Homo sapiens: one gene and its partner. The protein of the gene in region 1 purifies or fractionates together with the protein of each later gene. This does not show direct contact. Each region holds a gene or a part of one and is shown in the gene's direction. Other genes may lie near its edges.

Region 1 (3,500 bases):
ATGTTGCCCTACAATGTTAGGAGGACTACCGTGTCACTAGACAATAGGAATTTTTCAGCTCCATTATAATCTTAGGGACCGTCATCATATATGCAGTCCGTCATTGTCCAAAATATCGTTATGTGGTGCGTAACTGTATAAAGAAAATACAACTGTGTGCCCCATAGGGTTGTTGTGAAGATTAGATTCATCCAAGGCACCAGTTATAATAATACCTGGTATTTGGCATTTAGTGGTAGACTGCCAGTAAATGATAGATTACTTTAGTTTCTGTTAGAGAATTTAGAGAATCAGGAAACCTGAGTATATCTTAGAACTACATTTAGTGCTAAATTCTGTGACTTTGTTGTCTGCTCTTTTTCCTCTCAATTTACAGGCAGAGATCTGGCTCCACAAGGAGGCCCAGAAGGAGGGCTGGAGCAAAGCTGCCAAGCTCCAAGGGAGGAAGACCAAAGAAGGCCTGATTGGGCTGTTGCAGGAAGGAAACACAACTGTATTAGTAGAGGTGAGTTGTTGGAAATTCCAGATACCAAGAACAGCTGTCCCTTGGGTGTAAAGCTTGTAGTAGGCCCTAAAGGGGCCTGTTCTTGAAGAAGAGATCTGTTTAAGAACCATAAAGCGTAGTTGAAGTTAAACTCATGAAACCCTGGGTATTAGTTACGAATTCGTTTAAGTATAGAAATGTACTGGTGTGTTGATGAGAAATGGCCTGACAGTCTAGAATATTACTCCTGAATGTGAGTCTGGCACAGGCTTACACCTTGTCACTGATTGTTTCCTGGAACAGTTAGATTACAAGTTAATTATATTAATTGTTGCTGAATAGAGAGTAGGTATTTTAGAGGAGGTTTGGGGGCCATAATTGGTGAAGAGTCAGATGTGGATTAGTTTAGAGTGAGAGATGGGGATAAACAAGATAATAGCATAAGTGGTTTGGAGTTGGGATGGCTGGAGAATGAGGTGATGATGGTGTGCAGACATAGGTAAGTGGTGAACTTGTGGTGAGTCCTTCAGGACATTATTGAACCATCTTCTGAATATACAGGCTATTGCTAACTCACTGGCCCAACATAAATCACTTCATTCTGTTCCAGGCTAGGAGAGGAAGCGTAGCTTTAAAATTTTGGAGTCATTTTTTTTCCGTTGAGTCTGTAGCTTGTTCTATCAGTATCTTGATTTATTCTCCAGCCTTAAGGCACTTTTGGAAATTATCATTAAACAGCTTATACAGCTATATCAATTTGTTCCCACAGGTAAACTGTGAGACAGATTTTGTTTCTAGAAATTTAAAATTTCAACTGTTGGTCCAGCAAGTAGCCCTTGGAACCATGATGCATTGTCAGACCCTAAAGGATCAACCCTCTGCATACAGTAAAGTAAGTTTGGGATTTGTCTCCAGTGTGCTGAATTTGCTGTCCTCATTGGGTCTTTTGCTGTTCCTATTGTAGACATTCTCATGTCTCATTCTGTTACTTCACATCTCTGCTTAAATGCTATCTCTTTGCATAGAATTACCCTTCCCCCGTTGCTATATCCCCGTGTCATGCTGCATTTAAAATTTTTTATTATGGTGCTTATATATTACATTTTAATTTATCTGTGTGTTGTCTATCTTCCCCAGCAGAATGTAAGCTTTATGAGGCAGGGAATTTGTCTTTTCACTGTTGTATCTCTGGTGAAAGAGAATTGGGCCCACTACTTAGTTGGAGCTCAGTAAATCTTTGTCAGATGAATGAATGAATGATTGAATGCATGCATGCCAGTGAAATGGAGTTAGCCAGATCAAGTGAAGCCATTTGAGGCTTTGTGTTCAGAAATTTGGAATGGTCTTAGGAAAGAATTTCTAAATAAAGAGATTGGAGCCAGGTGTGGTGGCTCACCCCTGTAATCCCAGCACTTTGGGAGGCCGAGGCAGGCAGATCACCTGAAGTCGAGAGTTCAAGACCAGCCTGACCAACATGGAGAAACCCGTCTCTACTAAAAATACAAAATTAGCTGGGCGTGGTGGCGCTTGCCTGTAATCCCAGCTACTTGGGAAGTTGAAGCAGGAGAATCGCTTGAACCCGGGAGGTAGAGGCTGCAGTGAGCCGTTGTACTCCCCCCGGGCAATAAGAGCAAAACTCCGTCTCAGAAAAAAAAAAAGAGAGAGAGATTGGAAAAGACATGGTTTAGGAAAATAAGCATATTCTTATCCATAGAGGGATCAAGGAAAGGAATTATGTCATTCTGCCTTTGACTCAGCCTTATTGCCAAGGCAAAGATGAACCAACCACTCACAGTAATTTTTTTGAGTTTATTACCAACTTTTTTTATCTTCTTTATCCTTCTCTTGAGATGTCTTGGTAAATGTTAATTATTATTGGCATTACATAGTCATATGGAAAACAATGTTGAGATTATTTTTTTTAATTGTATTGAGTAGGTAAGTCACTTGAACTAGAAATTTTAGCTTTGATTTTGCCAGTAAACACCAGTGTACCCTTTTTTTTTTTATTTTTGTTTTTGTTTTTTGAGATGAAGTCTTGCTCTGTCACTCAGGCTGGAGTGCAGTGGTGCAATCTTGGCTCACTGCAACCTCCACCTCCTGGGTTCAAGCAATTCTGCATCAGACTCCCGAGTAGCTGGGACTACAGGCGCCCGCCACCACACACGCCTAGTATTTGTATTTTTTGTAAAGACAGAGTTTCACCATGTTGGCCAGGCTGGTCTTGAACTCCTGACCTCAAGTGATTCGCCCGCCTCCGCCTCCCAAAGTGCTGGGATTACAGGCGTGAGCCACCATGCCTGGCCCCAGTGTACTCTTTTTCCAGATTTGCCATTTATTAACATTTTGCTGTATTTGCTTTATCACTTCTTTTTTTCTTTAAGAGACAGATCTGGCTTTCTTGCCCAGCCTGGAGTGCAGTGGCACAATCATTGTTCACTGCTGCCTCAAATTCCTGGGCTCAAGTGATCTTCCCACCTCAGACTCCTGAGTAGCTGGGACTACATGTGCACACCACTATGCTAGGCTCATTTTTAAGTTTTTTGTAGAGACAGTCTTGCCATCTTGCCCAGGCTGGTCTCAAACCTCTGGGCTCAAGAAATCCACCTGCTTTGGCCTCCCAAAGTGTTGGGATTATAGGCTTGGGTCACTACAGCTGGCCCTATCACTTTTTATATACATGTTATCATCGCCCTTTTTTTTTTTTTTTTTTGAGATGGAGTCTCTCTGTCACCCAGGCTGGAGTGCAATGGTGCCATCTCGCTCACTGCAACCTCTCCCTCCCAGTTCAAGCGATTCTTCCACCTCAGCCTCCCAAGTAGCTGGGATTACAGGCACCTGCCATCATGCCCGGCTAATTTTTTTTGTATTTTTGTAGAGACGGGAGTTTCACCATGTTGGCCAGGCTGGTCTTGACTCCTGACCTCAGGTGATCTGCCCACCTGGGCCTCCCAAAGTGCTGGGATTACAGGCGTGAGCCACTGCACCCGGTCATCATCACTGTTTAAAAAAAATC
Region 2 (3,500 bases), on another chromosome or scaffold:
TTCGCAGAGATTACCAACACCAGTTTTCTTGTTTGGCTAAATCTCCTTTTTAGTAGTAGGATGTCAGGCGTATTTTAATTAAATTCTAGCCATTTCTTTCAGTGATTGTGAACTGTTTTTACCACCTTAGTAGTAATAATACCTTGGATTTATGGAATACTTTTCTATCAGAGAGTTCAAAGAGCTCATATCTATAATTTCTTTTATCCTGTTAACATTTCTATGAGGGAAGGGGTACAGTTTATTATTATCACTATCTTACAGAGGGAGAAGCTGAGGTGACTTGCTTTAATGCCGTAGCTACTGTTAACTGCCAGGACTTATCTGAGAGACTCATACTTGGATGTTCTATGAAATGGAGCTGAGAATTTGAGGGCTACTTTGTGTTTTGGATATCAACAATTACCTCTTTAATTTTTTTTTAAATATAAAAATACTGTTAAAACAGTGTAACTATCCAAAGTATGTGTGTAGTGAACTATTGGATTTTTGTCCTGTTCTATTGCTCCTTCTTACTCCAAGTTTATGTATTGTCTTGATATTTTGTATGTTTATATAAATGCGTGTTTTTTTTAAAACAAGTGTAAATGAAATCATACCTATACATACATGGTTTTGCAATTGTTTTTTTCACCTGCAATATAGATACTTTTTTTTTTTAAGAGATAGGGTCTCACCCTGTCACCCAGGTTGGAGTGCAGTGGCATGTAGCTCACTGTAACCTCGAACTCCTGGGTTCAAGTGATCTTCCTGCCTCAGCCTCCTGAGAAGCTAGGACTGTAGGGGTGTGCCACCAGGCCCACCTAATTTTTTTTTTTTTTTTTTTAATTTTGTAGAAATGAGGTCTTGCTATGTTGCCTGGACTGGTCTTGAACTACTGGCCTCAAGTGATCCTCCCACCTCGGCCTCCCAGAGTGCTGGGATTACCATGCTTGGCCTAGACACTTTTCAAAATGAACTCATAATCAAGGGTTGACAGACTTTTCTGGAAAGAGCAAGTTATTAAATTGTTTAGGCTTTGAGTGCAGTCATATGTTCTTGTCATATGTTCTTTTTTTTTTTTAAACAATCTTTTACAAATGTAAAAATCATTCTTAGCTTTCTAGCTATTAATAAATAGCTGAAGTGTGGGGCCATAGTTTGCTGACCCTTGATAGATATCTGTGTCATCTATTTGTAGGATTAGAGTTTTCAGTGGTGTGTGTATGTTCGTATGTTCTATTTTGCCTTAATGAACAGTGCTGGAATGAAGGGGGAACACTTAAAGTATCCTTATCTCTTACTTTCTCTGATATGTATATTTAGTCCTTAAAACAGCTTAAGCTTTCCCTCTGAAAGTAAGGTTATTCCTGTTGTTTCTTGGTGACTGATGGCGTTTCCCATCCACAGGGTCCTAACCTGATTATAAAACAACCAGATGAGTTGCTGGACAGCATGTCAGATTGGTGTAAGGAGCATCACGGGAAGGTAACATTACCAAATAACAGGATTGCTGCTTTGGGGATCAGTAGCAAGCTTTTTGCTCCCACACCTGAATCCGATACCATTGTTGGATGGTATTTTAAAAAGGCTTAGAGAAGATTGCATGGCAAGCCTGGGAAACTGCTTGCTTGTTTACTTTTCATCTTTGGGACCTCTCGAGATCATCTTCTCCTGAATGTCCTCTTTTTTTTCTCTCCTACATTCAGTCTGTCGCGAACGCATTGTGGATTGTCAAGTATTACTCAAGTCAGTCTTTTGGATAAGGTTAGACATCAACTTTCAGAGAAGGGGGATTGCTGCTCTCCTGTTAATAGTTGTTTCTTCCCAGAGGTTAATATCCTTGGACTTTGAACACCGTCTTTTTTGACTGTGGACATGCTATTAACAGTCAGGATCATAACTAAGTTGGCTTGGATTCTTGAAGAAAAAAAAATGGTGCAAAGATGGCAGTTGCAATTTGAACTTGAGCTCTAAAAATGGTCTATTTGTGGTTATATTTGCCCATTTTAAAAGTGAAATTTCATTTCTGGATGCCTTTGAAAACTGACTTTACATGTGTTTTTGGTGGGGGGCTGGGGATTCTCTCTTGCAGTCTGGCCTTACCAAGGCAGTGAAGGAGAGTACAATTACATTGCAGCAGGCAGAGTATGAATTTCTGTCCTTTGTACGACAGCAGACTCCTCCAGGGCTCTGTCCACTTGCAGGTAAAATCCAATCCTGTGTATATCTTATAGTCTTCCATATGTAGTGGTTCAAGAGACTGCAGTTCCAGAAAGACTAGCCGAGCCCATCCATGTCTTCCACTTAACCCTGCTTTGGGTTACACATCTTAACTTTTCTGTTCAAGTTTCTCTGTGTAGTTTATAGCATGAGTATTGGGAAAATGCCCTGAAACCTGACATGAGATCTGGGAAACACAAACTTACTCAATAAGAATTTCTCCCATATTTTTATGATGGAAAAATTTCACATGCACAGAGGAGTGGATTTAGTAATTGTTAACCTTGTGTCGTATTTGTTTTACCTATTTTTTGTTGGACATTTTAAAGGAAATTGCAGGCATCAGGACACTTCATTCCTAAATACTTCATCAAACATCTCCTAAGATAAAGACATTTTCTTATGTAATACAATGTCATTGCATTGAAGATAATTAAACATTATTCAGTATCATATGATATCTAGTCCACATTAGATGTTCCCCAAAATATTTGTTTTTGAACCAGGATTCAGTCAAGGCTCGTGCATTTCATTTAGTTATATTTCTTTAGTCTCTTAATGTAAAACTTTCCACCTATTATTTTTCCCCTGTGTCATTGACTTTCTAAAGAGACCAGGCCTGTTCTACCAGGATTTTTAAAAGGGTGACATTGCCAGAGGGAAGTTAATGTTTCTCTGAAGGTATATGTACGTTTGTATATGTAAGTCGATGTGGTAGCTAATACTGTTCTTAAACATTTATAAAAATAAGTTTTGGCATTAAGTACTAGAGCATATATTGTGTAAATGTTTCCGCCAGCCAATGTGGCTGATATCTGTTTTAAAGGTCTCATTTAAAATTTAGTGTTTTTAGTATAAGTTACTTTTTGGGGACATAAATATGCATATGATTTGTTTAAAAATTTGGATTGTAAATAAAGGTTTATCTACCTATGTGATTCAGTTAAATTTTTAGTGTTAGTGGTGTGAATTTTGTGACACTGGGAGAAAGTTTGCATATCAGGTATGACCTTAGAAAGTAACAAATAGATTTGTGCATTACATCAAGCATGTGGAATGATAGATTTGTCCTTCTGTTCATGAGAGGTCATTTACAAATTTATAAGGAGCTAAACTGACTAAGTACTTGGAAATCTGTACTTGTAAGCTAATCACATTTACCCAAACCTGATTTAGAAATATAGAGGTGCTTTTAGGAATTGTTTGAATTTTAAAAAATCATCTCCATTTCAAATACAACTTATGAATTTTGATATCCTGTTGTATAATACTAGAAATATAGAGATGCAGTATGCTTC

Evidence for each region.
Region 2: the proteins of TSFM (region 1) and REXO2 fractionate together in Homo sapiens (co-fractionation; one large-scale study listed by BioGRID). This does not show direct contact.

What each region holds. Positions count from the first base shown.
Region 1 is NC_000012.12:57,785,787-57,789,286, forward strand, and holds part of TSFM (elongation factor Ts, mitochondrial isoform 2 precursor), read left to right. Parts: intron 1-376; coding exon 377-505; intron 506-1,253; coding exon 1,254-1,376; intron 1,377-3,500. UniProt on the Homo sapiens protein: Associates with the EF-Tu.GDP complex and induces the exchange of GDP to GTP. It remains bound to the aminoacyl-tRNA.EF-Tu.GTP complex up to the GTP hydrolysis stage on the ribosome.
Region 2 is NC_000011.10:114,442,467-114,445,966, forward strand, and holds part of REXO2 (oligoribonuclease, mitochondrial precursor), read left to right. Parts: intron 1-1,389; coding exon 1,390-1,467; intron 1,468-2,074; coding exon 2,075-2,186; intron 2,187-3,500. UniProt on the Homo sapiens protein: 3'-to-5'exoribonuclease that preferentially degrades DNA and RNA oligonucleotides composed of only two nucleotides. Binds and degrades longer oligonucleotides with a lower affinity.